Linked DNA regions of Homo sapiens. The protein of the gene in region 2 interacts with the protein of the main gene of each other region in a biochemical or structural test. Each region holds a gene or a part of one and is shown on either strand. Other genes may lie near its edges.

Region 1 (7,556 bases), on a different chromosome or scaffold from region 2:
AAAAATGTTTTAAAAGGTAGTTTATTTTAATAAAAGAGCAAAGATGGCAACTTTTTAACCTAAAACTCTACTCATATAAACCACCCTTTTGTTCCTTATTTCTTGTGCTGTAATTACTCTTACAAACATTTATTTTAGTGTAGGTAATGCTTAGTAATTTTCATTTACCATTTACAATTCATTTTGATTACGTGAACCATTTTTTTAAGTTTTAATCAGTCTTGCTTGTGACAAAACCAGAGTCAGGAAATTTATCTGATCTTTGATCTGTCACTAACTTGCAGGGTAATTATCACCAAAATGTAATTGCTAGTTTTCCTCAATTTTTCTACTTTTAGAGTCAGTGTGAAAGTACCATTAATGAAGTAGGAAATTATGTTTTTGGTAATTGGTTTCATCATTGTGAAATGTAAGTGGTTCTTTTACTTCTCTTATCTTGACCTAAAGGACAACAATAATCTAGAGGAATATTCTACATATTAGTTGTTATTTTATGTTGTTATTTTGTGTTCTGCTAGTCCCATGATATAACAACTCTATAGTCAGGATATTTTAACTTTTAAAATATTTTCTAGAACCTTAGATTTTCAACTAGTCTTTAAAAAAAAAAAAAAACAAACTTGTCTTATAGATTGGTGGAAGTTGACTATTCTTGTAACAAAAGTTTAAAGCTCTGGTATTTCCTTCTGGTCAAATGTTTATTAATGTGAAATGGAAGGAAATTTGAACCATTTGAACCATTCCAGAAAGATTGTTTCTTGGATATTATTTTTCCCTGAAAGGGAAACTCACAACCTCTTATAGGTAAAAAGAAAAGTCTCCTTATACATATGGCCTTTGTCAAGAACATAAGTTTCTTTTTTTCCCTCTTTTTTTAGGGTTCACTATCAGACTTTCTTAAGGCTAATGTGGTCTCTTGGAATGAACTGTGTCATATTGCAGAAACCATGGCTAGAGGATTGGCATATTTACATGAGGATATACCTGGCCTAAAAGATGGCCACAAACCTGCCATATCTCACAGGTAGACTAAATTTATATTGTTTTCCCAGATAATTGAGTATATATTTACTAAACTTTTAAGCCCCTGGGTAAATTTTAATTTTTCCTTTGTTATGCAATCATGCTTTACAAGACAGTCAGTTTTCATTTGTTTTTTAAAATTAGCTTTGAGATTGGCCAGGAAGTATTTTGGATAATGTATATGTTAACATTATTGGTAAAGTTTAATGATCTACTTCATCTCATTTCTGAAAGCATGATTGAAAATAAACTATATTTTCTCGATCTCAAAGGAAAAAGACATTTGTTTTACCTCAAAACATGATTTATCAATAGGGATTATTATCCAAGGGCATGTAATGAAGGAGAGACTTTGAATGTCTTCCTTGCTTGTTTTTTGAATGACCTTATCTGTACCCTGAGCCAAGTCTTAAAGGGAGGCATCACTTAAAACAGTTGTCCAGTGAAGAAATACTACTTAGACCCAACAGTTGTCATGCCCGCAAAAGGAAAAATGATTGTGTCTTAAACATGGAATTCAGTTTGCCATGTATTTAATTTTCTTGAACGTGGGATTCAATTTGTTGTCTTGTGTTCCATTTAAAGATGGTTGTTTGAAAAGTAGGCATTAACTGATTCACAGAACAGATACTTAGCTGAGTGCCACCAGGCGATGTTTTAGGTTGCTGGGAGGCATTATTGTAAGTCAGCCTCTAATTTAGGTTCTGATTTTGCAAACTTTAAATGACGTCTACCTCAGAAATAACTCTTCTCACTTTCTTACATGCAGTCTATTGGCCTCGTCTTCGATTTTCCCTTGCCCTACCTGGTCACATAGGGAATTAATCCTTAAGGACCCCCAAAGTTATTAAGGGCCTGAAAGTCTTTTGAAACTAAGATCGATTAGCTTTTATAGCATTTGGGAGTGTCTGCTTGTGCTTTCAGTATCCCATTATTGGTCTATATGTCTGCACATAAATTTAACCACTAGTCATTGGCATAGATGTATTTAACTAGGGTATAGTAATCTCTAGGATGAGCCAGTTGAGACAGGTGTGTAGAAGAGGATATCTTACTGCCTTAAAACTGTTACCCTTTTCAGAACACCAGGATCTAGCTAGAGCAGTGTATGTTTATGGTAAAAAGTTTCTGTTATTCATTCCATAAGATGCTTTTCTACAACCAGGTGGAAGAATATAAGAACCTCTATAATAAGGGATTATTCTAAAATGTAGGTCTCTACCAATAAGCAGAAGGCCCCAATTCAGCTATTTTTTAAAAGTTTCTTCATTTTGGTTTAAAATTTCTGTTTCTATGGGAGTTTGCAAATCAGAACTCTGAGATATTAACAGTAGTTTTATGATTGGTAGGTGGGTGACATAGATAACATATCTTTTTGGTATGGCAGATTTTTATATAACTGCTTTATAGGTAGGATTCCTTCTTATTGTCCATGTTATGAATAGGGGTTTGTCACCGTGCTCTTGTGTTTAAGGCTGCATGGGGCTCTGAGCTTTGTTTGTCTCACTTTCTCTGCATTTCATAATTTTAAGTAACTATTTTTTCATAGTGTACATATTCCCCCTTTTCTGCTTTCAATAAAAAATTTAAAAAGGTAACTAGTTTAAACTTAATTTGAATACTCTTTTTATTTGCAAGGGACATCAAAAGTAAAAATGTGCTGTTGAAAAACAACCTGACAGCTTGCATTGCTGACTTTGGGTTGGCCTTAAAATTTGAGGCTGGCAAGTCTGCAGGCGATACCCATGGACAGGTAAGGATGATGATTATAAAATGTAAGAAAAAATAAACTTGTTCCATATTTTCTTAGAATGGCATGTCAGGACTGAATTAGTCTAAAATTGTTGTGGTGTTTAAATCAGCATCTAATAGAGTTATCAAAGTTTCTGAGGAAGACATTTTCATATGATGGTAGAGGACTCAGGTGGTTTAGATCAAGCACTTCGTAAAGCAACCCTTAGACACACGTCATAGGATTCTTTTTGAAAAATTGATCAAAGAATAATCCACCACCTTTTAACAGACCTCATTCTTAGGGAATTCTTCGTATGAACTCCGTAGTTTTAGTCTGTTAGTTCTTTCACCATCTTAAGAAGAGTGGAAGAATAATTAGTCACTGTCCTTACTACAGTGTATTAAGATTTCCTGTCCATTTTCCCATGCAATAATAGTTTATTGCTTCTTGTTGTTTATTGCTTCATTAATTTCTTTAATCAACTTGATGGCTTTTCTCCAAATTCTCTCCAGAGTTCAGAGCACTTGTAAACCCCTGAATTAGGTAACTCTTCACACCTCTGTATATATCCATATGCACAGAAATCTTAGTAATGGGAACCTCTAGGAAGGCCAAAAGGGAAAAGAACATTATCCATACAGTTTATTCTCAGAAACTTTGAGGCTGGAAAAGATGTTTTCATTCCTGCAAGATCACCTTTTATTTTTATTTATTTATTTATTTTTGAGACAGAGTCTCGCTCTGTCACCCAGGCTGGAGTGCAGTGGCATGATCTTGGCTCACTGCAGCCTCTGCCTTCCAAGTTCAAGTGATTCTCCTGGCTCAGCTTCCTGAGTAGCTGGGATTACACACATGCACCACCATGCCCAGCCTAATGTTTGTATTTTTAATGGAGATGGGGTTTCACCAAGTTGGCCAGGCTTGTATCGAGCTCCTGACCTCAAGTGATCCTCCCACCTCGGCCTCCCAAAGTGCTGGGATTATAGGCGTGAGCCACCACGCCCAGCCAAGATCACCTTTTAATCAGGGAAACCAGTTCAACCTAAAAGGTGACATTTTCTACAAAGCTAAATGGTTCAGGCCTTCGACATTATCATTTCTTCATCTTTCATATCATGTAAATTATTTGGCCAACTAATTCTTAGGTTTCTTTTCCCCAGCATATCCTATTGGTTCCTGAGGACACGTTTTTAATGTCATGGCACCACCAATTTTGGCAGTATTGACTAACTATTTAAGAATGTAGTTTGGGGTAATGGTCAGTAGCCATATAGCTCTAGAAAAGTTGACTGCAAATGTGTATGGGAATGGAGGCAATTTTGTGGAGAATACTACCAAGATTGTGTAGGAAGCCTGAGGACAAACTTCTAAGCTAATTGAATGATAGACTATCATAAGACTAAATTCTGGGAACATATTCTTAATTTGGTACCTCATAAGCCCTCCCTCATTTTTTGAGAAAAAAAATTTCTGACTCATTCATGTCATATTTTTAACTCCTTCACAACTGGGTTTTATGATTAGTTAAAAATTATTGGCTTACAGTAATGACTCCTTGACTTTAGATTTCATGGACCAGAAAATTTCAGAAATATTTGGAGGGACTTGCATGTTATTGCACATTTTATATAGTACAAAGAACACATATAAAAGAGGGAACATTTTATGTCAACATGGTAAATAAACCATAATCTTACAATAAAAGAGGTAGGTACCTTGGATGGCATACATTTACCTGTAAGAGAAAAGTAGGCTTTAGGGAAACATTCACTGATAGCACAATTAAAATAATTATTCTGAGTAGTAAATTTTTTAAAAGTAGAGCCACTTTTCCCTTTAATGTGTTCTCCTTGAACTTTAGTCTTAGTGATCTGTCTTTATTCTTAAAAAAAATCTTTACATGTATATTTGCATAAATTGCCCAACTTTTAGTCTAGAGTAGAGATTATAGCCACCTAAGGATGGAGCGTTATGGACGTACCAATATCTAGACTACTCTCTAGTTCGAATACATCGCAAGTATGTTGTGATGTACCCAGCTATCTCACAAATATTTTTAAGCATTCATATATGAATGTTGTCAAGCACCAACCAAAGCTAGCTGTACTAGCTTAGTAACCATAGTTACAGTACTAAGAAATACCAAATTGTTGGGGACAGTTATAAATAAAGGACTCCAAGACAGAAGAATTTATGAATAAACAAATACATAGATTTTGTACAGATAGAACTTTTTAACATCAGTCTGTCCTTTACTTAGCTAATTCTTTTTATAACATTTTATTAGTTTTTTTAATACAGAGAAAAGACCTCAAAAAAAGTTTTTTTTTTAAAGCTACATTTCAAACAGTATGCAAAGGTACAGTTGAAAAGTATGCAGCATCCTTCTCCCAGCTGACAATTGGTTCAGTTTCTTGTGATTACATCCAGAAAGGGGAACATAAAAACTTCTAAGTCTGTACCAGCATAATGTCTGTTGATATATTTTTTAAGTATACGCAGAAAGGATCTTTCTATTTATACGCTATAGTGTGTATACCTTACCCTGGTAATAGACCACATTTGGTTTTGATTCATCTTACAAAATCATATGTTAGTTCATAAAGTTAATGAATGAGTACTCTTTGCTTTTAACATCTTTTTCAGGTTGGTACCCGGAGGTACATGGCTCCAGAGGTATTAGAGGGTGCTATAAACTTCCAAAGGGATGCATTTTTGAGGATAGATATGTATGCCATGGGATTAGTCCTATGGGAACTGGCTTCTCGCTGTACTGCTGCAGATGGTAAGGGAAAAAAATATTTTTAAAAAAGATATATATGCCTACCACACATATATGAAAAGGGATGATACACTCCAAGGTAATATTTTAAAGTACAGTTTTTTTTTAATTGACTCCAAGAGATGGTAGAGAATTCAGGAGGCAGGGGAGCAGTGGGTGGGGTAGGAGAGGAAAGGAATTGCTATGTATTGATCCTTTACCATTACTAGCTATGTTGCTGGACACTTCACATACCTTAAGGTTATTTCCTAAAACGGTTTCAGAGGTAGTTATTATGCTTTACATATGAGGAAATTGAGATGCAGAGAAATTAAGTAGTTTGCCTACTTTAGCCTCAAACTGGTGAATGATGAAACCTAGATTTGAAACTCTGATCCAGACATAGGGAGAGGTCTGCTTTAAGGTCATATGGGTCCTGCCCCCCAGGTTAAAGGGTTTCTATTACTTGTTCTTGTTATTGAAGTCCATGTTCAAGTCTTATAGATATTTGCTTTTATTTATTTATTTTTCTGGGTAAATTTTCAGACGATATTTCCAGTGTGACAGAACTATTTTAGTGTTTCAAGCACTGTCTTTAGTACTCCTTCATAAGGTCTTTACTCTGTCTTCAAGTATGTTGCAGCATTTTTTGTTTTGAATAATATAAGGCAAACTTGCCGACTGCTAAACTCCTAAACAGATGTAAATGAGCTTGATCTGTTTCTTAAGTTCTAATTTATAATTGCCTAAAAACTTCCTGTGATTGTCAAAGACCATAGAAGAAATTGTGAATATTTTAAGTTATAACCAATGTAACCTATGTTACTAACAATATTTTATTTTCTGAGTACTGTAATAGGCTCTCGTTGTAGGACAGACTGCCACTGGAATATGAAATTCAATATAGGGTACTATTAAAGGGAATTTAATAGAGTGTTCAGAAATGGGCATTCTTCCAGGATTGAGGGATTGGCTTGGGAGTCAATGCCAAACCTAAGAAAAGTTGAAGCAATTTTGGAATAATTTCAGAAGTCTTTAGGAAGAAGCGTTAAGAACGCAGAGTGTTTTGACTCTAAGAGGAATGACATTTATGATGTGCATTTATGGAAGCAGAAGTAGGTTAGATGGCAGATGTTATAGGAAAATATATTTTATAAGAACTTTATTAATATGAACTCTCCATAACAAATCATTGGATTAAGTAATTTAGGAGACACAAGACCTTATTCTCAAGTAATATACAGTTTAGTTAGGGCAATAAAATATATCCTGGACAATTAACTCTAGAGTAAGTTAAGTGTGAGTTGTCTGGCCCATTCCCCAGTACATAGGTATTCAATAAATGTTTCTGGGTTAGTGCAATACTTAAGAAATACAAGCATGTGTTTTAGGAGTTTAGGGGAGAAATTGCTTTGTTTATGGGGAAGAGAGGTTTCAGAGAAGTTCTTTTGGAAAAAGAAAAGGCTAGATACTGACTTTTCTTAAATGCCATGAAATAATTTCAGAGTCAGGCATTTCTGACTCTTAAGTCAGAACCCAATTGTTAAGTCAGAAATTGGGGTAGAGAGGATAGTGTGAGCATTGATTGCTAAAGTAGGTGCTTTCACGTGTGTTGATGGTTACTTGTTTGTTAAATGAAGTAATTCTCAAACTTTAATGTGTCATACCAGATTCTTAGGAATCTTGTTAAAATTTAGATTCTGACTCAGTAGGTCTGGGTTGAAGCCTGAGAGTCTACATTTCTTAAAAGCTAAGCTACCAGTTGACGGCAGTGTTGCTGGCCTGTACACCACATAAGTGTTGAATAGACACCTTAGAATGTCGGTACTTTGTCACTGGAAGTACTCAAGCAGAGACCAACTGTCCAGCCATAGATAATTCTTATATTTGAAGAGGGTTAAGTTAGATGACCCCTTTATGATTCATTGTATTCTACCCAGGAGTATTTAGTGCATTTCAAGAGCTTCACAAAATTTGTGTTTATGCACACATACATCTATCTGGTCACTGATACTGCTCAGTGGTGACCTGTGTCTG
Region 2 (8,179 bases):
CCAATTCTTCCAGGAGGAGTAGCTCTTCTGGCTGCAAGCCAGGAAGAGGGTGCGGAGTTACTAAAGGGGAATCCCTGGCTCCCCCACCACACAAGCAGTGAGTTAAAATCAGATTCAGAAACGATAGTACAGAAGCAAGAGTGGAAACGTCCGCTGGTGCCCCGGCCAAGCTGCCTCTACAGGGACGGCTGCAGTCTGCCCACGGTGGAGGGCTTTGCAGGGTGACTCCCCGCCCCCACGCCCTGCTCCATGCCTCACCTTCATGGTGGAAGCTGCGCACAGTGTTGGCTCGGCTGGCTGCCCTCTCCAACCGGTGGTCTGGGGCGGGTGAGCCCGGCTGACCTGAGTGCCTGCGATACAGGTCTAGCATGTAGGGGGGCACCACGGCGTCCCTGCTGGGGGTGGGTCTCTGTTTCAGGCCGAACATGCTGAGCAGCCGCAACTCGAACTCGCTCAGGACCTCGTCAGAGGGCTGGGATGAGGGGCGGCCCGACGACGCCGCCGCGAACTTCCTGCGGCCCAGCTCCGGAACGAGGCCAGCCGCGCCGCCCAGGAGGACCTGGGGAAGCAGCAACGCTAGAAGACAGCGGGTCCCGGCCACCATGGTCGACCTGCGGACAGGACCGACGTGAGTCACCCGAGTTCCCCGCCCAGTCCTCCCCCCTCGCGCCCCCGCGGCCCGGTCTCCCATTTGGCTGGCGTGCCTCCTCCAGGATGCCCTCCTGGCTTGGCACACTCACGAGTCTAGGTAAGACCGACCGAAGCTCAAACGTTTGGGATAATGAAGGGTCCCAAGTTCCTGAACCAGATGATTTATCGCTCCCATCCAACGCTTAGCTCGTCTGACATCAGATTTGGGATTTGCCCTCCCCCCCAACCAAACCAGCGCCAATGACTGTCACTTTTTTGTGTGTGACACAGCGCTGACAGCCAATGCCGGGAACCTGGGAAAACCACCGCTTGATCTGACACCCTGCGTCCCCTATACAAACCCAAATGCGGAGTGCTGAGCGCTGTCTGGCATATAAACACACATAAATGGTGCATGTGACTTCCTTAGAGGCACTGTATAGAACTTCCTGACACACACACACACACACACACACACACACACACACCCTTATAGCTTCCAGACCCTGTAAGCTCAAGGCCACAACTTCTGAAGCCACTTATGACTTGTGTCCCAGGCCCCTACCCTCAGGGGTGTCTCGAAAGGCAGCTCCATCCCGCATCCCCACAGTGCAGTCAAGATACACATGTATCTTCCCGGGATTACGTAAATGGTGAATATCTATTAATGCACGTGTCAGCTGTTAAAAACACAGTACCAAGTGATCCTTCAGTACTGACCCCTCGCATTTCTGGAAACAAGTAGGGAGAACCCCAAACTCCTAGTACTTTCCTAAATGGGACACGGCTCTGAGCAAAGAAACCAAGTCTCCCGGAAACACTTGAAGAATGGAGATCACCATGGCAGAGCGGACAGGTTCTCAGCTAACGGGTGAAACCCAGGGGCTACCCTCTCAAAGGGATTTCTTTGACCCAAAAAAGTTTTTAAAAAAATTAAAAATAAATAAATAAATAAATAAAACACCTCATCTAAGTGTTAACAGCTCCAAAAGTATTCCAGGGAGAGGGGAAGAAAGAGGGGTGGAAGAGTGCGGGCCGGGAGGGTGAGGCTTACGGTCGCCCGGGGCAGCTGGAAGTGGGAGCCCCTGCAGGGCTCCGTTGCACGTGGACTGGAGAGGGGTCTGTTTACTTCTGGCCTGGACGTAAGGAAGGGCTCTACCGCAGTGGCTGCCCAAATCCCCCTCCCACCCACCACCCACCCCGGGCCCTGGCCCGCGTCCTCTACCTTTAGGAGACCGCAGTCCGTCTAAGAAGCACGCGGGGACACGTCCATTGAAAGAGCGTCCACATGGAAAAACTCTGGTCAAAGGACCTGGCGCAAGGACCGAATGTCCGTTCCTTTTCTTTGCCTCCTCCTTCTCCCGGGTGCCGGCCGCGCAGTCTCTCTTTTCACGCTGGGAACAGCGTCTCAGTGTCGGGCAAGGCCGAGGAGTGGAGGGGCGGTGGGGCTCGGAGATGGCGAAGCAGGCTCCGCTGGGGCAAAGGCACCGGCGCAAAGTGGGGTGCGCAAGTTATTCTCCCTGCAAGTTCAAGAAGTCCCCAGCCAAGTGCTGACACACAACAACAGCGAGCAGGGGGAGGAGTGCGGGGCAGGGAAGGGAAGGGAGAAAGGAGAAGCTGGTGCTGTCGTCCTCCTTAGGAACCAGCGCCCGAGGGACGCGTGGCCCCGCGCGGGGCCGGCTCCGGGACTCGGGGGTCGAGGGTCGGGCGCTCCGCGCTAGCTCCGCCGCGGCCCATGGCTCGGGGCAGCCATCCTGGGCGACGCCGGGTCCAGGGAAGGGCACGGCGGCGATCTCGGTGCCAGGCGAGTTGCCCCCCCGCATCACTCTGCCTTACTCCAGTGCACCCCCATTCGCGCTCGCCAGTTGAAAGCACCGCGGCTCTGGCGCCCCGTCGTCCTCGGGCGCATTCTCCGGCGAGTCGAGCCGAGTCCCGGGCCGCCGAGGCGGGTGGCTGTGCTCTCCCCTCGCTCTCCTAGCCCTGGGGCCAAGTGCCCTTTGTGGCTAGCCTGGGGTCCGATCACACCTCGGCCAGCGCGTCCCAGGCCCCCGATCTCCTGCAGTAGGTGCTCCGCATCGCGGCGCTAGGGATCGGCTCCGGAGTCCCCGGCGCTCTGCGCGCCCGTCCGCGGCTCTGGCGCAGCCCGGGCAGCAGAGGCCACGGCGCTGTGGCGCGCTCTGCCGGGTGCTCCAGCCCGCGCGGGGTCTGCGGCGCGCGGGTGCCTCGCGGTCCCCGGTGATCCACTCGGCGCTGGCCCCGAGAACGTTCGGGTAGCCGGCGGAGGCTGTGGCGGCAGATGTGCGGCGGCGGCTGCCAGTCCCCGGCGGGGTGTGGGAAGCGGAGCGACTAGCGCAGCGCGAGCCGGGCGCAGCGCGGCGGGGCGAGGACTCCGGCGGCGGCGACGGCGGCGGCGGCGCCGTGGCGCGGCGCTCGCGGCTTTTAAAGGGGACGCCGCCTGCCGGCTCCCTCCCGGCCGCGGCCGAACACCTCCCCCTTCGCGGCGCGGCTCGCCGGGGATCCCCGAGCGGGCGGGAGCTGCGCGCAGGGGTGTGGACGGCGCGCCCGGGCAGCCGCGGCGGGGTGGGGCGGAGGGCGGGGGCGCGCGGCCGCCAAGGGGGGCGCTCGCGCCTCCACTCCCTGCTCTCAAAGGAGAGATCAGCTGGCGCGCCGGACCCTCGCGGGGACTCTGGAGGCGAAATCCAGGACAAATGCAGGGTCAGGGTCTGGCCTCTTATTTCCCCGCTGGGCCCGTTATTCAACTTTCAGTTTGAAGTTTTTCGGTAATATACGATTTCAAAAAACAAAACAAAACAAAACACCTCAATTACAGCGTATTTTGGCATAGCATAGACGTGGGATCCACGCTTCTGTTTCCCCGGAATAGGAGGAAAATTAAAAGAAAACAGCAGGCTGGAAATTGAGTGTTTTTAAACATTAATACATAGAGATGTATGTATTTACATATGTAAATGCATGTGTACAAATTTTTTTACATAAATGTGTATGCATTTATTTTCATATCCATACGCATGTAAATTTATAGTTACATAAATATATCCAATATACAAAAATATGTGCATATATTTCTATAAATATATTCATGTATGAGAATATATGCAACCGAAGGGCCACATTTCGGTTAATATGTCTATGTATGTGACATGGATGTCATCCTGCTTTACGTGACATGTGTGTAACGTAGACTGCGTGTGTGGCAGACTGAAGGATGGATGGGAGGGATTTGATTTTTTTATTGTACAATCACTTTGTGCCTTGTGATATTTATCTCACCCAGCTCAGAGGCAGGCGATTAGCAGCTCAGAGGAAGGTAAAATAACGCACTGTGTGAACCAAGCATACAGGACAATTCCAGTTTGGGACCTTGGAACCTTCTACGCCACCCTCTTCCACCAGGCCCCCAAGAAGTAGGGCTGTGACACGTGGCCAAGTCACTCCTCAGCTGAATATTCACTGAAGTCACTCCTCAGCCGAAATACTGCTCAGAGCTGCTGCACGATGAGTCTGGGGCCAAGGCTTTCTGCCCTTCCCAGGATTCCAGGAGCCCCCATGCACAGCACCTCGGGCTTGCCCAAATGATCCCCAAAACCAAGGGCAGAAAATTTTTGGAAAAGGCCAAGTTCTGCTTTCCCAGAGCTATCGGGCCTGCGAAACAGAGAGAAAAAAGTCAGAAGCAGGAGCTGGTAATAGAACTATTATCCATGTGTATTATTTTTTCGGTAGGGGAGCTAAAATAATACTAGGTTCCGCTCACGTAAATCGGATTAGCAACCCACAGAGGCGAATTAGGCACTTGCTGTTTCTAAAGGTATAAAGGTCAAATAAGGTATTTTGGAGGAAGCCTGACTACCAGGAAAATAAAAGGGGGTGGGGGAATTATTCAGGAACATGCTACTTTATTTCCTGAAAAAAAAAAAAAAGGTGCTATAGAAGTTGATTGTCACTCAGAGTCATTGCACCGCAAACAAGGAGGCAATAAAACATATCCTACTCATGGACACAGGGCTTCTGAAATTATTTCCTTTCCTATCAAGTTTAATTGAGAAGTTAACAATTGTTTCTCTCATTACTTAGATTTCAAAAACAAAACAAAACAAAACTTCAATGAGATTTAAGTAGCTTTTAAAGAGGAGGAAAAGTTGATAACTATTGGATGCACCCGAAGAAAAAATAAATAAATATCCTGTGATGACCTCAAGGATGTCTTGCAGCTTTAGAACTTCATAACCTGGTAAGTGGAAACCTTGTCAGTTTAGAATCTGAGGGAAAATGGGTACTTCTGAACACTGTTTCATGTTAGTGCTGCCCATTGCAGAATCTCTTTTATGTAGGGTGTATGATTTCTGAGGAACTACTGAATGCTTGTTCCAAGCACAACTTACATAAATTTTGGCCCTATTTTTTTTTTTTTAGAGATGGCTGCCCTCTTGTGGTGGAAATGAGTTCGAACGCTTGAAAGAAAGAAGTCCATAAATAAATAAATAAATAAATAAGTAGTCTCCAGAGACTGATTTGGGATCGAAGTACAGGATGACTGTACCTACCCGTTTTCCAGGGAAGAGCAATAGTCAGAAATGATAAATCTAAATACAGACGAGCTATTTCTTTTTTTTTTCTCTCTCTTCACTAATGGCTACCTTCCACCTGCAACTTAGAATGCTGGGTTATTTAATACTTTGGGAGAGTGTCTGTTTGCCTTGAAAATATCACTTGCAGCTAACCATTGTCAATTCTACCGTTTTCAAAGGTCCATTCAAAGTTTTTCAGTTCAGAGGGTGAGATTCAGTCTTGCTGAGTTTATCAGACTTAGTGCATCTGCCAGCAAATGTGGAAGGGGCAGAGGTGGGAGTGGGGAGTTGTTTAAGATAGGGATAGTAGAAGTTGCAAATTCAAATGCATCAGAGGGTACAGACAAGTTATGTAAAAAAGCAAAGATGACCAGATAATGATTCCACATAAAGGAGGTTGTTGCTATTCCATTTCAGTCATCTCTTGGCAGTTTCTCAGGAGATAGTGGAAATTTGCATTTGATTGTGTGTGGACAAGACTCGGGATGAAATTAACTGCTTACAGTCATACTTTAGCAATTTTAGCACTTCAGCTCACATGATATTCCATTTTATTGCATTCTGTAGCTATTAGCATTCAGTATTGTTCTTGCTAGGCCAAACATTATGCAAATCAACATTAAAATAGTGATCCCCATGTATTGTAAAGTTCACAGCAGGCATTACGTGATCCATCTACCTTGTAATTGTCATTCCATGGAAACCTGTGGCAACTGCCCTGAGAAACCCTCTTTGCTTTTTAGCATACATATCGCTTTGTTACAAGGGTGACACCCATAACCATCCCTACTTACTTTACCTGGATGAAGTTTTTTTTACAGGAACTTGGAGCCAAGGCAAAAGAGAAGCATTTAGTCAATCAAATGTTTTCCTTTTTGGTGTTTGATTAGACATGGTAGAAAGGATGGGAGAGGTGGAGTGATTTATATCAGAAACTAGGCCAAGTTGGCCAAATCAGGATCACTGCTTTCAGCAAGTACCAACTACATCTTCTTAAAAATTAAAAAGAATGAATTTTGTGCATTGATTAGACTGTCACACAGTTTAAGATGTACACCTTAAGTTATGTCTGTAAACTATGTTGATAACACTCTAAGATGTAGTTGGGTGACCTGGGTTCTAATTCCTGGTTCTGTCATGGATGACTGACTTTAAAATGGTCATTTCATCTGTTAATTGGGGTAAATAAATATATGTTTGCTTGCTTCAGACTGACATGATGAAGGTCAAATGGATAACATGTGTGAACTTAGTTTCTGATTGCTACTCACTCTATGTATCTTCAAATGTATTCTTTGGCCTTCTGTCTGCAATATGGCCTGGTTTTAAGAAATAGGACTTTGGATGCCTTTCTTCTCCTCCTCTTTCTCCTCCTTCTCCTTCTCTTCTCCCAGCTTTTATTATATTGCCAAACAGTGGATATTTCATCAGAAAGGCCACCAGTTGGGTCAGTCAATCTAAAGCAGAGGTCCCCAACCATTTTGGCACCAGGGACCAGTTTTGTGGAGGAAAATTTTTCTACAGACCAGGTTGGGGGTGATGGTTTCAGGATGAAACGGTTCCACGTCAGATCGTCAGGCATTAGTTAGGTTCTCATAAGGAGCATGCAACCTAGATCCCTCATACATGCAGTTCACAGTAGGGTTTGAGCTCCTATGAGAATCTAATGCTGCTGCTGATCTGACAGGAGGCAGAGCTCAGGCAGTAATGCTCCCTCACCTGCCCCTGGGGGTTCCTAACAGGCCATGGACAAGTACTATTCATGGCCCGGGGGTTGGGGACCTCTGATCTATGGCAGTAACAAATTCTCATAGCCTCGGCTCCCTCATGAATACTCTATAGAGACTAACAGTTGACTTCTCATGGAGGTTGTGAAGAATAAATGAGAAGATATGTGTGAAGACAACAAAAGGTTGCAAATTTGTATTACTATATACATGCAAATTAAGGCCATCGGTTCTGGTTCTCGAAAGATGTGAGTTTATCTTATGTGATTTTCTTTTGCACTTGGTAGATTTCAAAAATATGGGTTGAATGAGCACATGCTTCTGGAAAATGATTATAGTCTTCAAAATAAGACTCCCCTGAGAAGCCTGTTGGCTTTTTAGCATGAGTAACACTTTGTTACTAGTGCAACACCCAATACCGGTTCTGATTACTTTACCTCCATGAAATTCTTTCATGGGAACCCCGGGAGCCACAGCAAAAGAGCAGCATTTAGTCATTCAAATGTTTACCTATTTTGCATTTGATTAGACATAATAGGAAGGATGAGTGGAGTGGGGTAATTTATATGCAAAGCCTAAGCCAGGCCAAATTGGCCAAGTACGATTGTTTTAAATATCCACTACATATTATTTAATTATCATATACTAATACATTTGCATACCTTGTCAATGATATTAAAATGTTTTGACTTTCTGTTAAATAGACTGTGAAGAGTCAACTATAGTATTTCCTTTTACATACAGTCTACAAATATTTATTGAGCAACTACAAAGCCCACGGCACTATGTTATTGGGCTCCAGTTAATACAAAAGTACATAATCTCTGCACATAATTTACTTAGAATTCAATGGAAGAAATGCAACATGTTTACGGGTAAATACATATAAAATATATGGCATATGAGATAAGAACTTTAAGGGAGTTGAGAAACAATTGCTTCAGGTTTAATGAAGAGCAACTCACTTCTGAAATGTGGAACAAAAACCTTGCTCAGTGAATGTCACTACCCTTATTTTACAGGTGAAGAAACTGTGCTTGGAAAGGTTAAGTCATTTTTCCAAAGCCACATGGCTAGCAAATGGCATAGCTTACACTAGACTCATGTTTTGGGAGTTTGGGGCTTTTTTCCCCACTATGCTTATGGTCTCTCAATTCTATACAGTGGTAACAACTCAAAGCCAAGACATCATGTGAAAAAAATGTAGGATGTTGTTTTGAGGAGTACAAAGAGGTA
Region 3 (7,556 bases), on a different chromosome or scaffold from region 2:
CTCATTGAACTGGATGCACTGTGTTTAAGGCCACAGGGAGGGAGACGCTAGGAAAGATGCCTGAGGCTGGGAACGGTGGCGTTTACCTGAGGACCAGGCGGACCCCTTTCACCAGCTTTTCCAGGTTTTCCAGCTTCACCCTGAAGGGAGAGAGAGAGATATCCCAGCTTCCTCAGAGACGCAGTAGCATAGTGGGGGCACCCCAGAGGGCTTCCCTCCTTCCAGCCCTCCATGCCTTTGCCTACCGGCTCACTCATCTCCCTCACCTCCTTCAGACTCCACGTGCCTGGATGCCTTTCATGGGTCACCATTTATTCTTTTGGACACATGCATAGCCCATGGGCAAGCTCCTCTGTCCTCACCAGCCTCCAACTTCCCCTGAGAGGCTTTTTCTCTCCTCTCCTAGGTTCTGCTGACTGTATGTGCTCTCTCTAACCTCAAGAGACTTTTACTGTCTAATGCAATTCATAAAAATAGCACAAGAGTGCCAATTCTTGTCTCTTCATTTCGTTTGCATCCTTTGTAGACATCCTGACTCAGGCTGTGCTTTTTCTAACTCATTTACAATTAAGATAATGCTGGGTTGTTGAACGCTTCTTTCTTTGTTTTTCCTTCTCTACATCTTTCTGCCTTGTATTTTTTCTCTCCCTTCTCTCATTTCTCAATTTCCCTTCCTGGGGCTAATGATGTTTTAATTATTTGTCTTCCCCTTGGATCCAAAGCGGTCCCCAGGGAACTTGCCAGCACAGTCACAGTGGCCATATAGATAGGAGATGGCGTCAGGGTTTGGGACTGCCCAGTCTTGCTCCTCAAGATACCTCCACCCTGGGTGCCTCCCTGTCACTCCCCAAGCACACACCCTCTCCAGGCCCTTTCAAAGGAGGCAGCTCCTCATTTGTCTACTCGTGTATACTCACATCATCACCAGGCTTTCCAGGGGGACCAGGAGGACCACGGGGACCCATGGGACCCTACAAACAAAGGAAGATAGTTTAAGAGATGGTTATAGTGGGAAGACACCTAAGCAATGGACAAAACTTTGACATTGTAGTTTTGGAAGCCAGTTCTTCTATGAAGAAGAAAGATGGGAAGGTCAGAGCAAAGGTGCAGAGATCATAGTGGGACGCAGCAGATAGCACAGGCTGGGGTGACCCGGAAAGGGGGCTGTTAGGACAGAGTCCCTGGTGGTCCTTGCCACATTGGGCTGTCTGTCAGAGTTCCTCCACAGCTAGGAAGTGACATCCGAATTTCCTTGGGGCCACCGACTGTGGGAAAGAGCTGGGCAGAGCCTGGGAGGGACAGCAGCTGCGGTCCTAGTGGTCTATCATTAGAGGCTCCCCCAGAGAAGGGACAGGGCCGTGCTGGTACTCACAGAGACACCAGGTTCACCAGGTTCACCAGGATTGCCTTGAAATCCTTGAGGCCCCTAAAAAGTAAAATGAGGATACCAGGTCAATCCCTATAAACTGCTAAAACATCATAGTGCTTGGGAATCATCTGCGACACGATGGAGGCAAAAAGAATTGCAGATACTTACAGGAGCACCTGCAGGGCCTGGAGGTCCTCGAGGTCCCATGGGGCCCTGCATCGGAACAGAAAATGAGGGGTTTACTACACATGCTTCCTCAGTGGCCTCCAGTGTGCCATCTTCTCCCAGCCAACAGCCCGGGCAAAGGACAAGAAGTTACTCTGTGGGCAAGGGGCCTAGAGTGGCTGCTCCCTCTCATTTCCCACTCCCCACGCAACACTCTATTTTTATTTATAGGCACCATTTGGACAGAAAAGCTGGCCTTGCTTTCTCCTGGACAGCAGCCATGTTTACTAAAGGCTGAGTTTCATTTAGCATGTGCCAAGTCAGAGCTGCGGGCTGAGATTTCCTGCTGGAAGTCTGTGGATGCTGGAGAACAGTAGCTGCTGTCTGCATTCTTCAGTTCTCATTCCAAGAGCAATAGCAACTGGTCTTCTAACAGATCAGCCTATATGCATCTCCCCATCTTCATTCTTCTTAGTCACTCCAGCGCATCATTAAAAGTGGCATCCATTGCCATTAAAAACCAAATGCTTTGGGCTAGCTGAATGGGAGGTTACATAACTACGGAGGAGAGCCACTCTAAGCAATTATCTGTAAAGCAGAGGTTGTCAGACTCTCTGGCTCTGCTAAGGGCCACCTCCTGCCATTTTGGCTGCAAAGAACTAGTGTCTTTTCTTACCATTGGTCCTTGCATTACTCCCAACTGGGCGCCACCAGCCTTTTCATCAAATCCTCCAGCCATCTGGGCAGCAAAGTTCTGCAAAGAAACCCAACAACGTTAGGAGGTTGAAAGGCACTAGGTCTTCCCTACTTGGCTAGGTAAGCTCTATATGGATACAAAGAACTCTACTGAGATAAACTCTGATTGTTGGAGACTAACCTATCATTGATCAGAATTACCACTGATGCCTGGAAAGTAATTTTGGGAATGGATTATTAGATGACAGTGGCAAAATCATTTCACTGGAAGGGAAAGTGTTATTTGAGGAAGTATCAGTTCCTTGCATTTCATTTTATAAAATTATTTTTATGCTCTAAAATATGACAGATGTTATTTAACGTATATGGAGAAACATAACCAAACCTTCTAAGGGTGTTCTTTATTCTTTAAGACTTTAGTGCCCAGCAAAAGACTAAAATCAACAGTCTTGGAATATTTCAGCAAGAGATGTAGTAGGCATCTGTGATCCCATTTGAGTTTAAGAATTTAAAATACAGCAAACATCAAAATAGCAAACCTGCAAAAACTAGGCAATCATATAATTTGTTGATTGGTTTGATTCCAGAATTGACTTTAGCCACACACCTTCACTCAGTGGAGCTCTTTCATGAGAGTGAATAGTTGCTTGGAATGTACTTGGCAAGAACCAAGGATAAATGTCTTCCAAGGACAGTGGTCACTCGTCTTCCAGGGAAATACAAGTGCCCAGTCATCCTTCCTCCTATCCCTTACACCCACCCCCCAGCATCAACTACGTGGTACAGATGCCAGGAAGCCAGGTAACTGAGGACTTTCTTTATAGAATCCCAGTTAGTGAAAAAAGCCAGCCCTTAGCACCACAGTCTCATGCCTAATATGTGACTCTTCTAAATTACAGGCCTGAGGGCAAAGCCCATGGACAGGCTATGTACACACTGCTGGCAGCCCTGGGAGCCAGCCAGGTAAGTGCAAGCAGCAATTTAAAAGCCACATTTCTGGAGGGACAGCCTGAAGGAATGGGAAGTAAGGATACTTACTCCACCAAGACCAGGGGGACCAGGGGGGCCGGGAGGACCAGGGGGGCCAGGATTTCCAGGGGTCCCAGGTTCTCCATCTCTGCCACGAGGTCCAGGGGCACCCTTGGCATAAAGAGAAAAAGGCATCAATGGGAAGCAGTGTTTCTCCAAGAGCCATCTGTCCCTTGGCTGCTCTTTAAGAGGTGACCAGGCCCTTAAACACATGGTGGGGCCTTGGGGGACCTGGGAAGTCCACCAGGGTCAAGCAGCATTGCTTTTTACTCACTTTTTCACCTTTGTCACCACGATCCCCTCTGGGTCCTTGTTCCCCTGCAGGTCCCTGAAGGTGAAGAACATGGTAAGATGACAGCAAGGCCAGGAGCCTGCAGATCAGTAACTTGCGCGCAGCGAGGAAGGGACGGAGAAAGAGATTTCTCCCTCTCTTACCTGAGGCCCAGGAGGTCCTTTGGGTCCTACAATCTGTGAGAGAGAGCCCCACAGGATGGTAAGTTAGAGGAGAGCACAAGGAAATGACCCATTTAGAGCAGCAGCTGCAATACCGGGTGAGAATAATTTGCACTTACATCCTTGATGTCTCCAGGTTCTCCTTTCTGTCCCTGAAACATGAAACATTCACAGGATTAAGCCGAGTAAGCCCACTAAGCCCCTAGTCTAAAACCCTGCCAGCAGCCCCTGTGTTGAGGTACCCTCTGAAACAGATATCTTCTGATGTCTAAAAAATCACAGACTGGATTAACATAGCATTGCTTTTGAAGCAGAAAATATAAAGCCAAAAAAATATGAAAAAAGAAAAAGAAGAAAGCCCTTACCTTTGGTCCTGGTTGCCCTGCAAGGGAAAAAATATAGAGAAGAAGAAGGTAAGAATCTTGAGATGGAAAAATACCTATTCTTGTCACTCAAACACTCATTAGATCAAACAAGTAAAAGGACACAATCAAGGAAGGCGGCAGCTTCCTGTGACTCCACTGAACCCCTCTGTTGGGGTGTTAGGGCCACTGTGGCCCTGGGGTTGCTGAGGTCCCATGAGGAATGGAGGTGACCCAGACTTTGTTATTCAAAAAGCAGGCAGCATGCAAAAGAAAGGAGCAAGGGCAGCACAAAAAGGCAATGAAGAGCTCAAGATCTAATCAGCCACAAGAAGGAAAGCACAGATTCAGTCTCTCTTCCCCCCACAGGGTAGGGAGCCGTTCCCGAACCCCAAGCCCTCCCAGAGGAAGAGTTAGGTACTTAGAAAGGTCTTACATTAGAGCTGGGTCTCCTTGAAGCAAGCACAAATAAAAACACAAAAACAGCAAGGCATATGAGTTATGAAGAGCATCGGAGCATCATAGCCTGTGCCATCCCCAGTCAATAACCTCTCCTTCACAGTAGCAGCAAAATAGTAAAGGCAATCAACACTTCACTCACACGGGCCCCTCAGAAAGGATCTGGGAATCTGCACATTAGGGAGCCAGTGTTGGTGAAGTGTTAAGGAAAGGCAGCTTCTCACTTCCCTTGCCACGGCCTTCTCTACTTCAGCAGGAAGCGGACAGCAAGAGCTACCCAAAAAACCTACACAAGCGTCCCCACTCACTCTGCAGGGAGATAGGACATCTGTATGAATGCTGGGAAGGGGTCACCTGCACATATATCATCCACCAGCACTGGATCTAACTGGGAGTTTATAACCACCCACTACAGTGCAGATACATGGGGCTCTGTCTCCACCCGTCCCCACGAGAACTCCCAAAGCCTAGCCCTTCCCTCTCCTATTATTTTGCTTCTGAATTAATGGTCAACTCCAAGAGAGGTAATAGCAGAGAGGAAACTACCACCAATGTTCCATAACTCAAAGAGGGAGCCTCTGCCCCTGCAGTCTCCCCACTAGCTGGCAGAGCTTTCTCCACACTGAAGACCACATACATAGAAGTCTTCTAAGGAGAAGACAAGGTGTCGGTGGCAGAGGAGGAATTAATTCGTGGATTGGCCAGACAGAGCATTTGATCTCCATAGTGGCTCTAGTAATTTGCAGAGATGATTTCAGAGAGGATTTTTTTTTTTTTTTTTTTGTAGAATCACATCTGTCCTTCATGTGTCTTGGAAGCAAATGTTTTTGGAGATGTTGGGCAAAGAAGGACCCCTCTAGTGTCTCAGGCTCGTTCACTCAGTTTCAACCTGCAAGTGAGAAGTGGCCTTTCCTTTCTACCCCAGCTACCAGGTCCCATGGATAACTAGCCCCTCTGCTTTGCAGAGACGACCAGCATCTATGGGAGCGTGTTTGCAGTGCTTGCAAGTAATTTATTTATGTTGAACAGGAAATAAATAAATTACAACCACTGGCAGTGGCGAGGTCAGTTGGGCAGATGGGGCAGCACTCTCCGAAGGGGATCTCAGGGCTGAGGCAGTCTTTCACGTCTTCACAGATTATGTCGTCGCAGAGGACAGTCCCAGTGTCACAGACACAGATCCGGCAGGGCTCCGGCTTCCACACATCCTTATCATTATACCTCTGCCCATCCTGCACACAGCTGCCAGCCTCCTCTGCACCAAGGGTGGGGAGGGAGAAGCAGAGAGCCAAGGGAAGGAGGGGGTGGGGAGCCAGAGAGAAAAAGAGAGAGGTTGCAGTCAACTTGACAGAATTCAAATGCTGAAGAATGTAGGCTGGGGCCACCTGGACATATAGAACTTAAAAATTATTTTCCTAAAACATCATTGATTTTTCCATGTATTCAACAAATATTTATTATGCACCTTGCACCATGTTGTCTATTCACCAGTGAAAATCTTGACCCAGCAATGAAGGTGGGGGGTTACTATACTATATTCTCTTTACCCACCTAATACGGGGGAGACCAGGTGATGGAGTGGGTGGAGGGAGTTGGAGGGTGAGCGGAAGGGAGGAGACAAGATATTCTGAATAGGAATTCTGGGACTATAAAAAGAAAGGAGACAGAAAAATGGCGAGACCTCCCTTCCACCAGCCCAGGAGCAGAGAAGTCTTCTTTCTTCTGCCTTCCTCTGGGAATTATGGGATTAGCTAAATACAACTGACAACTAACATTCAGAGGGAATGTAGAAAATTCTACCTACAAAAATTGGAATCTATAAGCAGTGAGGCTCCAAAAATAGGTATATAAGAAAGGGGGGTGAAAAGACGAGCTATTAGAATTAGGATCTTGTCTCATTCTTTGAACCATATTAGAATTAGGACCAATTTGGGGAGGGGGATAGACCCATTCAAACAATACACTTGGGGCTTGGGCAGGCTAATAAACTGCTTAGGAGGCCAGTGGAGCCAAAGCGCCCCCAGTGCTGACCTCCACCTGTAGCCCTGCCTGGAGAGGCCCTGCCTCCATCTGAAAACAGCACCCCAGTTTGGGGAGCAGGGGTCGTTGAATACCTGGCTAGGGCTAAGATTGGCCAGTCCAGGCCTGGCCTCCTCCAAGACTGCAGAGGAAGAATAGCAGGGACTAGTCTCCTCCACCAGCGCCCTGCCGTCTGGAATTCATGCTGCAAATGAAACCTGTGCTGACAAGAGCGCTCCTTAGCAGCCAAGGGCTGTAGAGCCCGCACCACGTGCTAGGGAGCGCCCAGCGCTGTTTTTCTCATCAAAATCCCCAAGGCAATAGCAGCAGCAGGGGATGAATAATAGGAAAGAGCCACAAACCCAGAGGGCGAGAAAGAAACGAGCCTGCCCACTGCTCTTTAAAGAGAGTGAAAATCCAAAGATAAACTTTCCTTTTTACTTTCCCACTAGAAGAAATCCGCCTAGCCTTTGGGCAAGATAATCACAGGAGGGTGAGGGATTCCAGGGAAAATACAGAAGTTGCGGGGACACACCCGCCGTTAAAATAGCTGGAGCAGTGGAATGCAGGCGGTGAGGAAGGTGTGGGAGAGGGGGCATCGGTTAATGCGCTCCAGCCCAGACTACAGGAGAGCCCACCCTCGCCCATGAGGACCCAGGGAGGAGAGGGGGAAATGCTAGGAGAGGGGCCACTCCCCGTGCGGATCAGATTTCCCGGGGAAGGGCGGCCCGGGAAGCGCCGGCGCAGGGGCGGGGCCAGGCTGCGCTGGGTGTAAGAGCCGCTGAGTGACTCTGTGGCTGCGGCTCTGGACACGGCTCGCTCACAGACACCGGGAGAGTGAAAAGTGGGATTAAATGACTGCCCCAGAAAGGAGCCAGCGCCGTAACCGGATCCCCTAGGTGTGGACGGAGGAGCCCAGCACCACCATAATTGCTGCTCCAAAACGGCTGCCGATAGCATCCCGGCGCGCCTGATCCGGTTCCCCTCATTACCGCAGGGCCGTA
Region 4 (7,833 bases), on a different chromosome or scaffold from region 2:
TTGAAACTTGGGAGGCAAAGATTGCAATGAGCCGAGATCACACCACTGCACTCCAGTCTGGGCAACAGAGTGAGACTCCATCTCAAAAAACAAAAACCAAAAAACATTCTCAGTGCTATAGAAGCAGTTTAGTGCACTGGTTAAGACTGAGATGCTGCAGCCAGACAATTCATGTTTAAATCCTGCCTCTTCCAATTTCTAGCATGGCCGTGGGAATGTTATCTAACTTCTCTGTGCCTTGCTTTCCTCAGTTGTAAAATGGAAATAAAATAATACCTTATTATGAGGCCTCAGGTTGATAATAAATGTGAGCTACTTAGTAGTGTGCCTGTATCATGGTAACCACTCCATAAATGTGGCTTTTATTATGGAAGGTACACATTTCACCAAGTTATTATATTAACAAGCAAAAATTTAAATACTCTGTTTGTTGAGAGGCTTAACCACTTATTTTGTATATGTAGAGTCAACATGTAGCAGTGGACAATAAGACAACCACAGCAGTAGGAACAGAAGAGCAAGAAAAAGATCTCTTTCTTACACTGAAAAATATTTCCTTCACCTGATTCCTAAAATACCATACCTGAAAAGAGGCAGACTTTTATTCCACAATTAGAGAGAAATAGTTTAAAAGCACATGTTCTAGAATGTTACTTAGCATTGTATGCCTTGATTTATGACAATATATTAATGGTGGTCAAATCCTTTACCTTCAGTTTTGAGAGAAGAGGGGGGTGGAAAAGGAAAGTGGTAGGAGTGAGGATATCCATGAAGAGGAAGGAGAAGGGGAGGCTGACAGCATAGAAGCAAGCTGTGTCCCCAGGTCTGTCCTATTTCTCTACTTATAAATTCCCCAAATAGTTCAATTCCAGTGGGCCTGGGCAAATGTCTTTCTTAATGGGAAATATGCCTGCAAGTGTTTGAGAGTCCTATATACACTGCCCTGGTTTCCTTATGTAGAAGCAGAGGGGAAAAAAATCTTGCTTTTGCTAAAATTTGTCATGCACCCAATGAAGCCCCTCCTTTCTATTCTTCTCCCCCCAGTGGTCTCTATTTACTTATTTATTTATTTAGATATGGTGTGGGCATGTGGGGGTCTCACTATGTTGCTCAGGCTGGTCTTGAACTCAAGGGATCCTCCCACCTCTGCCTCTGAGTATCTGTGACTACATGCATATGCCACCACATCTGGCTCCTATGGCCTTTAAAGGCACCAAAATCCAAGGCTACAGTTAGCAATATAGGAAGTGTCTTTTGAGTCTGCTGTCTTGGTAGTTACACCATTGTCTTGGTTCAAGTATTCCTTCTTTCAATGACAGACCCTTAATTAGTTTTGTGCTTTCATTTCTCCCTCTCCAGGTACCTCTAAATGATCTCCTGAAAATCCCAGTCCACCATTTGACTCCGTGGCTTACAAATCTCCAGTGCTTCTCCATTACCTAATAAGGAAAAAATCAATTTCATTAGTATGTTTGAGAAGGTTATTTCTGAACCCTGCTTAGCCTAAGAGAGTCATCTGCTGCACCTTCTCCTCATCACTTGGATAGCAGCACTGAGATACCAGCTGTTCTCTAAACACGCCATGCTTTTTCATAGGGTTCTCCTTGCTTAGGATGTTTATTCTCTTTCTAGCCCCGCTTTGATCTCTAAAGATCCTTCAGGACCCTTATGAAATGTGACTACTCTAGGAAGGTTTTCCTGAGATTTCTAGGCAGAATAGTTCATTTTTCTATGCTCCAAAAATTGTGTGTTCATGCATTAATGCACTTCTCATAGAAAGTTCTATATATTTTTTAAGTATCTTGTTTCTTCTGTATTATGAGTTTCAAGAAGGAATGGACAGAGTTTGCCTCTCAAATACCAGGACTTGGTTTGTCATAGGCACTCAAAAATGTTGATTTTTGAATAGCTTCTTTCCAAGGCTCCCCATTCCTGCTTACAGAAATGTTACCATCTAAGGCCCACCTCAAACACAGTTTCCCCTGTACCCCATTTTCTCCCACCTGGAGTGCTTTTTTTTTTTCATCCCAAAGACCTACAGGAATTTCCTTTGTTCTCTGATTTGGAATTTTAAAAAATATATTTAAACAAGGTATTTAAAAAAATCTGTCTCCTTGTCTGCAAGTTGATTGAAGTGGAATCTGTGTCTTCTCTATCCAGAGATGCCTGTATTCCCTGAATCAGTATCTTATACCCAGCAGATTCTCTGAAGGATATTTGCTGAATGGAGGAGTTAAGCCAAGGAAAGATAATCCTTAGTGCAACTTCTGAAAAGATACAGGTGACAATACCACTAGCTCCAAAACATTCTGCATAATGTCTGCTTTATTTCACTGCAGTTTATGAGTGCTCCAATTCTAAGGGAGATTATACAGCTGTCAAATACAAATTATCAGTAATTCACACAGTAGAAAGGATAGATTCAATCAGGTTTCTTTCCTCTTTAAACTTGCTTAATGTTGATGAGATATTGACAATGATCAACACATTACATTTTTAGTTCTATGGATTTCCAGTAAATTCTCTAAGCTTTTCTATGTATACAATCATAAGCTCTGTAATGAATTATAATTTGGTATCTTATTTTCAATATTTAAAACTCATATTTCTAAACTCACATTTCATTTTCGATAATTTATTATTTTTAGTTAATTACATAATAGCTCATAATTCCTTGCTTTGTCTTTTATTTTAATGGTGTAGAAGTTATAATTTCCGTGTCTTCAAGCCCCCTTCTCCCCACAAAACACTTAGTTAATATGAGGATGGAGATGATGAAAAATTGGATTGAGGACCAGGTAGAAGGTAATTTAGGTAGTCATATGCTTTATTGTTTTGAAAGAAAGGAGGTGGAAAAGGGAAGGGGTGGGAGTGAGGGTATCAGAGAAGAATTGGGATGAGAGTAAAATGAATGGATTTTATCTTGGAATTCTTGGGGCAAGAGGATGAGTACTGGTACTGGGGACTGGAACAGTGGTTGAATAAGGAAGGTCAGATGATGTCAATGACTAATTTCACTTGTTTTGGAAATTTTCTTTCAGATACCTTTCTTCTTCCAGTTTGGCATTAGAAATCACAATGCAGATATATCATGGGGCAAAAAGACCTTTGTGGAGACTCTAACATTGCTTTTATAGAAAAAACATGACCACATCTTCATACACTCAATAAACACTGGGGGCACCGCCTGCTTTAAGTGCAAGCTGCATAAAATAAATTGATACACAAATGAATTTTTTATTGATAAGTGCAAAAAGATTACATTTAATGTTTAAAAAAGATTTAATAGAAACAATTTAAGAAAAGGGAGTAGTTGAAAGAAAATAGTAGGCTAAGAATTGAATATAGAAATAGATATGAAGAAAATTGGAAGAAAGTTACTTCAGGGTGAAAAACTGTTAAAAAAAAAAATGACTTAGATCACACACTTGGTGGTGACCAGAGACTGTTTGTCAATATTTTGGAGGAAAAAAATTTTACAGAAGGAGAAAATAAGTAATGCTGGAGAGTGGGAAGCTGAAAGGTATTGAAAGGAAAAGAGTATTTGGAAGTCACGAGATATCTCCCTGGGAAATAGAGTTGGCAAAATGGCTGATTTTAAAGAGGTTAACTATTCTCCCCAAATTTCTGACTGTGAACTAGCTTACTTTATATTTACCCACTTAGAAAGTGTTTCAACACTTAAAGACTTAGCAAGGAGACCACAAAGTATAAGACGTTACATACTTTTCCAAAAGAAACACGACTAACTGTAAACTGTCATCAAATACAAATGGAATGGGTTTTCTCTTTTGGGTTTTATTTTTTTATTTTTAATTTTTTGGTGGTTGTTTTCGTTTAACGGTTTCAAAAAATATGTAGAAGGGAAATATTTCATTTCCCTTGGACGCTCAACTGTATATATTTCAAGATTCTTAAAACCCCCACCTCAAACTGCAGGCTTAATTTTAATGTGTTCATTTTTTACAAGGTGTGTCAACGTTTTATCAATTTCTGAAAAGTGTCTATGGCCCCGAAAAGTTGAAATCCACGACATTATATCATCTCTGCGAGCCCTTTCCAGCTCTCAAGGTACAATAATTCCACGAATCTTTGTTCTTCAAACCAGGAGGTTTTCTGGAAACCTTCTTAAACAACCAGGACAGGACCCATGAGGGAAATCTTGGGGATGCTCTGAGCAGCGGACGGGGCTTGGGAAGCGCACCCCTGTACCCGGGCTGCCTCCGGCCCGCACCCCGCCGCTCCCCAAGTCGGCTCCGCACTCCGCACACAGGCGGCGGCGCTGGGGCCGCTCCAAGTGCGTTGAGAAGTGTAATCCCTCCGCTAAGTACTTGGCTCTCAGTCTCCAATCACTAGTGGGAGCTGGAGAGGGCAAGTGAAAAAAAAAAATTCCAGAGGCAGCCGAGGAGCGAGAGGGAAAAAAAAAAAAAAAAAAAAAAAAAGTCCCGCGGTGGCGGCGGCGGCGGCGGCGGAGCGGCCGCGGCGGCCAGAAGTTGACGGCGCAGCCGGGCGCGGGGCGCGGAGTCGGCGGGGCCTCGCGGGACGCCGGGCAGTGCGGAGACCGCGGCGCTGAGGACGCGGGAGCCGGGAGCGCAGCCGCGGGTAAGGCGCGCGCGGCGGGGCCCCGTCCCCTGCGGGTGGCCGAGTTCCCGAGCGCGCGGGAGGCGGCCGAGCCGGCGAGAGCCGGGCAGAGCGAGGGGCGGCGCGGGACGGGTAGCGGCTGGGTGCGGAGCTGGGCGGCGGTCGCCCTAGGCAGGACGGAGCGCGCGAGGGAGAGGGCGAGAGCGAGGGCGGGCTGCGCGGCCGTGGGGCGGTGGCGGCGGCGGGGAGGGGGTCAGGCGGTGGCCGCCTCGGCTTTGTGCGCGGGCGGCTCTGCCGGGACCCCGAGGCCTCGTGCCTGCGCAGGCGAGGAGTCGGGGCAGCGGCGGCGGCGGGCGGGACACGTGCTTCGGGCTGTAGGGACGCCCCAAGGCAGGGAGTCGGACCTGCGAGCGGAGGGATGGGGCGGGAGGGCGAGCTGAGGGCAGTCGCGGAATCCGGGAAATGGGAGGGAGCCCGGCGGGGCGGGGGCCCAGGGCCAGCCCAGGCGGGACCCGCAGGCACCCACCTGCCCCGGACGCCTCCCGAGACCCAGCCTTGCCGTGGGGGAAAGTGCGCAGCGGGCTGGTCCCGGCGCCTTGGACTGGGCTCCGTCTCTGCTTCAGTTGCCTGTCTCTTCTCCTCTCTCTCCTGCTTCTCTCTCTCTATGCCTCTCTCTCAAGTTCTGGGTCTTTCATTCTCTCCCTTTTCTTCCTTTCTCCCTTCCTCTCCTTATTGCTATCCTTTGCCTCTCCCCCCGGTCTCTCTTTCCTTCCGTGCGTCTGTCTCCCTCTCCCCACCGCCTGCTCTGGCTCTCCCAGTGTGTCCCTCCTCTGTCCCTTCATCCTCTTCCCTCTGTCACTTTCGCACAATCTTTTGGTCTCTCTCTCTCTCTCAAGAGGCTTTCGCTCCCGGTCTTCCTGGCTCCCCTGTCTCTTGCTCTCTGCGCCCATCTCTCTGCTCGTCCCTCTTTCTGTCCAGGCTCCGTGTTTCCGCCTGTGTTTGGCGGTGTTGGAGAAGAGCCTCTGGAAGTTGTCCGCTGTGGTGCGGGTCTTACTTCTTTAGAGCTGCACCCCTCCAGCTGGGTCCTGCTGTTTGTTCTGAATGGAAACGCTGCAGTTCCCTTGAGTTATTAGAAACTGCTCTTTTCTTAGCCACCTTTCCAGCAAGGTGAGGTCAGTGACTACGAGCGGCCACAAAGGTGCCAGTGAAAGACAACGGAGGAAGAGAGCCGTTTCACTACCTCCAACAGATAAAGAAAATGTGTTAATACCAAACTTACCTGCAGCAAAGCAGAGCCACCTGAGAAAAGGTTCTTGAGTTCTGCAAAGAAACATAAAAGGCTCCACTGGAAATGAGAGGGTTCAGCTAAAAAGTGTTTGCAAATAATTTGAAAAAGCACTTAATGGAAATCTCTTGCTGTGCTAAATTGATGCCAACGAATCTCTGTTTTCTTACATATATTTTTAGGATTCCAGTGACAACTCTCCTAATTATTGTTTTGGGCAAGTTATGGGAAATGTCCTGTGTCAACTGGGATGTTAGTATTTAAGAAAATATTCAGTCTTTGTACTTTATACCCCTTTACACTCTAGTGATCAAGAAGAATTATTTCTAGCTGTAAAGAAAATAGTAAAGGATTCGTCAGTAATTTTAAAACATGAGACATGCCGGTGATCAATAATGTTTTTGGAAAACTTTCATTATAAGGATGTTTTGAAGGATGTTACATCTTAGTGAAATATGTAAGTTATTACACACTTAGATCATTGTGCAATGCAAAAAAGTTTGTGTTATAAGCAGATCATAGTAGTGATGTCTTTTTATGGGAAACATAGCTGGGAAATTAATTGCTCTGATTTTCACTGTTTTCTTTAGTCATGCATAATGTACCTTTGTGTTTAGCAAAATATGGCCTAGAGCTACAAAACTTGATACAGTGTGTTATTTGTCCAATCTGAATTACCATTTAGAAAACCACCTTTTCCTTTTAGTTACATGATATAAGTTGATATGATCTCATTACTCATGTGCTAGGGGCCGCTGATGAATTTTAATGGCACTGATTTGTGTTTTTAAATCAAAATGTTAGTTTTTGGTGAGTTAAAATCTTGATTTATGTCATGTTAGTGAATCATCACTATTTATAGGGGCTTTGCCACCTTGTCTGCCAGGTGCTGCCCAGCATTTAGTCTAGGCTAGGTTGTCTGAAATTCCCTGTTAGATTATTGTCCCTGAGTGACGTGCTGCCACGGCCTGCTTATGTATGTTTCTCTAAATGTTCCAGTCGTTAAATAATATTTATTAAAAGGAAATTGACTTAAATTTTTCCTCATAAGCTTTGGGAACTGTGTGAGATGGCCTGATAAAGTATTTTTATTACAGTAAATGCTGATTTATTATTATTTGTTTAAAAGTATAAGGCAGTTTAAAATGTGCTTATCTTTTGCCACATATAGCACCTCCTCCAGCTCTTTCTGAGCACTCAAATCGTATTTATCATCCAAATCTAAAGTCAGTTGTCACCTACTCCAACCTAGCAGAGCCTTCCTGATTTTCAGAAGCCCCCTCACCACTGCCTCTGCCTCTCAGGCTTCTGAGTGCCCCTCTTTCGGTGTCCACCTCTGTGCTGTATGGTTACTTGCTTGGCGCTTCCTTGTTGGACTGTTATCTCATTGAGGTGAGATAGTGTCCCTTGTTTCTTTTTCTCTGAATTTCAGATGCCCAGCACAGTACCTGGTATGTGATAGATACTCAAGAAATCCTTGTAGGACGATTGGTTCTTTTCCAAATTACCTCTAACTTGTGATACTGATTCTTTGTGGATGCAGTAGCTCAAGGAAAATACTTAAGAATAGTGTAATAGCAGATCATAGACTTAGGATTGAAAGAGTCTTAGCATGTCATCACACACATTAATAATATTAAAGATGAAGAGGATGAGGCCCAGAGAGTTTGAAAAACCATGCTCAGAAATAGAAAGTGAGGCTAGGATGGCTATGGAATTGAGACTTTACTTTTTTCACGGTGCCACAATTCTTTTCACTGGACTCATGTTTGACTTCTTTCACTAGAAGTGGGTAAATATGTCTATAATTAGAAGCTGTAAGTTTTACTCTAAACTCTGAAGATTTCTTTTCATGTCATCCAATAAAAGCCGTGCATGAAATGTATCACTTTGCAATAACTGATAATCATTTCTGATGCATGTAAGCATGGAGGTAACACCGATCTTTAAGAACCTTGACTCCTAAA

The links.
Region 1: the proteins of BMP2 (region 2) and ACVR2A form a complex in vitro, tested with the Homo sapiens proteins (3 studies listed by BioGRID and IntAct, with this or other methods).
Region 3: the proteins of BMP2 (region 2) and COL2A1 form a complex in vitro, tested with the Homo sapiens proteins (one study listed by BioGRID).
Region 4: the proteins of BMP2 (region 2) and BMPR1B form a complex in vitro, tested with the Homo sapiens proteins (3 studies listed by BioGRID and IntAct, with this or other methods).

Annotation. Positions count from the first base shown.
Region 1 is NC_000002.12:147,917,569-147,925,124, forward strand, and holds part of ACVR2A (activin receptor type-2A isoform 1 precursor), read left to right. Parts: intron 1-878; coding exon 879-1,024; intron 1,025-2,661; coding exon 2,662-2,776; intron 2,777-5,404; coding exon 5,405-5,543; intron 5,544-7,556. UniProt on the Homo sapiens protein: On ligand binding, forms a receptor complex consisting of two type II and two type I transmembrane serine/threonine kinases.
Region 2 is NC_000020.11:6,762,552-6,770,730, reverse strand, and holds the start of BMP2 (bone morphogenetic protein 2 preproprotein), read right to left. Parts: upstream 3,046-8,179; 5' UTR 1,856-3,045; intron 612-1,855; 5' UTR 605-611; coding exon 259-604; intron 1-258. UniProt on the Homo sapiens protein: Growth factor of the TGF-beta superfamily that plays essential roles in many developmental processes, including cardiogenesis, neurogenesis, and osteogenesis. Induces cartilage and bone formation.
Region 3 is NC_000012.12:47,994,338-48,001,893, forward strand, and holds part of COL2A1 (collagen alpha-1(II) chain isoform 1 precursor), read right to left. Parts: intron 7,217-7,556; exon of another isoform or gene 6,648-7,216; intron 5,789-6,647; coding exon 5,582-5,788; coding exon of another isoform or gene 5,579-5,581; intron 4,095-5,578; coding exon 4,078-4,094; intron 3,865-4,077; coding exon 3,832-3,864; intron 3,728-3,831; coding exon 3,695-3,727; intron 3,588-3,694; coding exon 3,534-3,587; intron 3,371-3,533; coding exon 3,269-3,370; intron 2,289-3,268; coding exon 2,211-2,288; intron 1,583-2,210; coding exon 1,538-1,582; intron 1,427-1,537; coding exon 1,373-1,426; intron 972-1,372; coding exon 918-971; intron 141-917; coding exon 87-140; intron 1-86. UniProt on the Homo sapiens protein: Type II collagen is specific for cartilaginous tissues. It is essential for the normal embryonic development of the skeleton, for linear growth and for the ability of cartilage to resist compressive forces.
Region 4 is NC_000004.12:94,753,467-94,761,299, forward strand, and holds the start of BMPR1B (bone morphogenetic protein receptor type-1B isoform b precursor), read left to right. Parts: upstream 1-4,488; 5' UTR 4,489-4,602; intron 4,603-7,833. UniProt on the Homo sapiens protein: On ligand binding, forms a receptor complex consisting of two type II and two type I transmembrane serine/threonine kinases.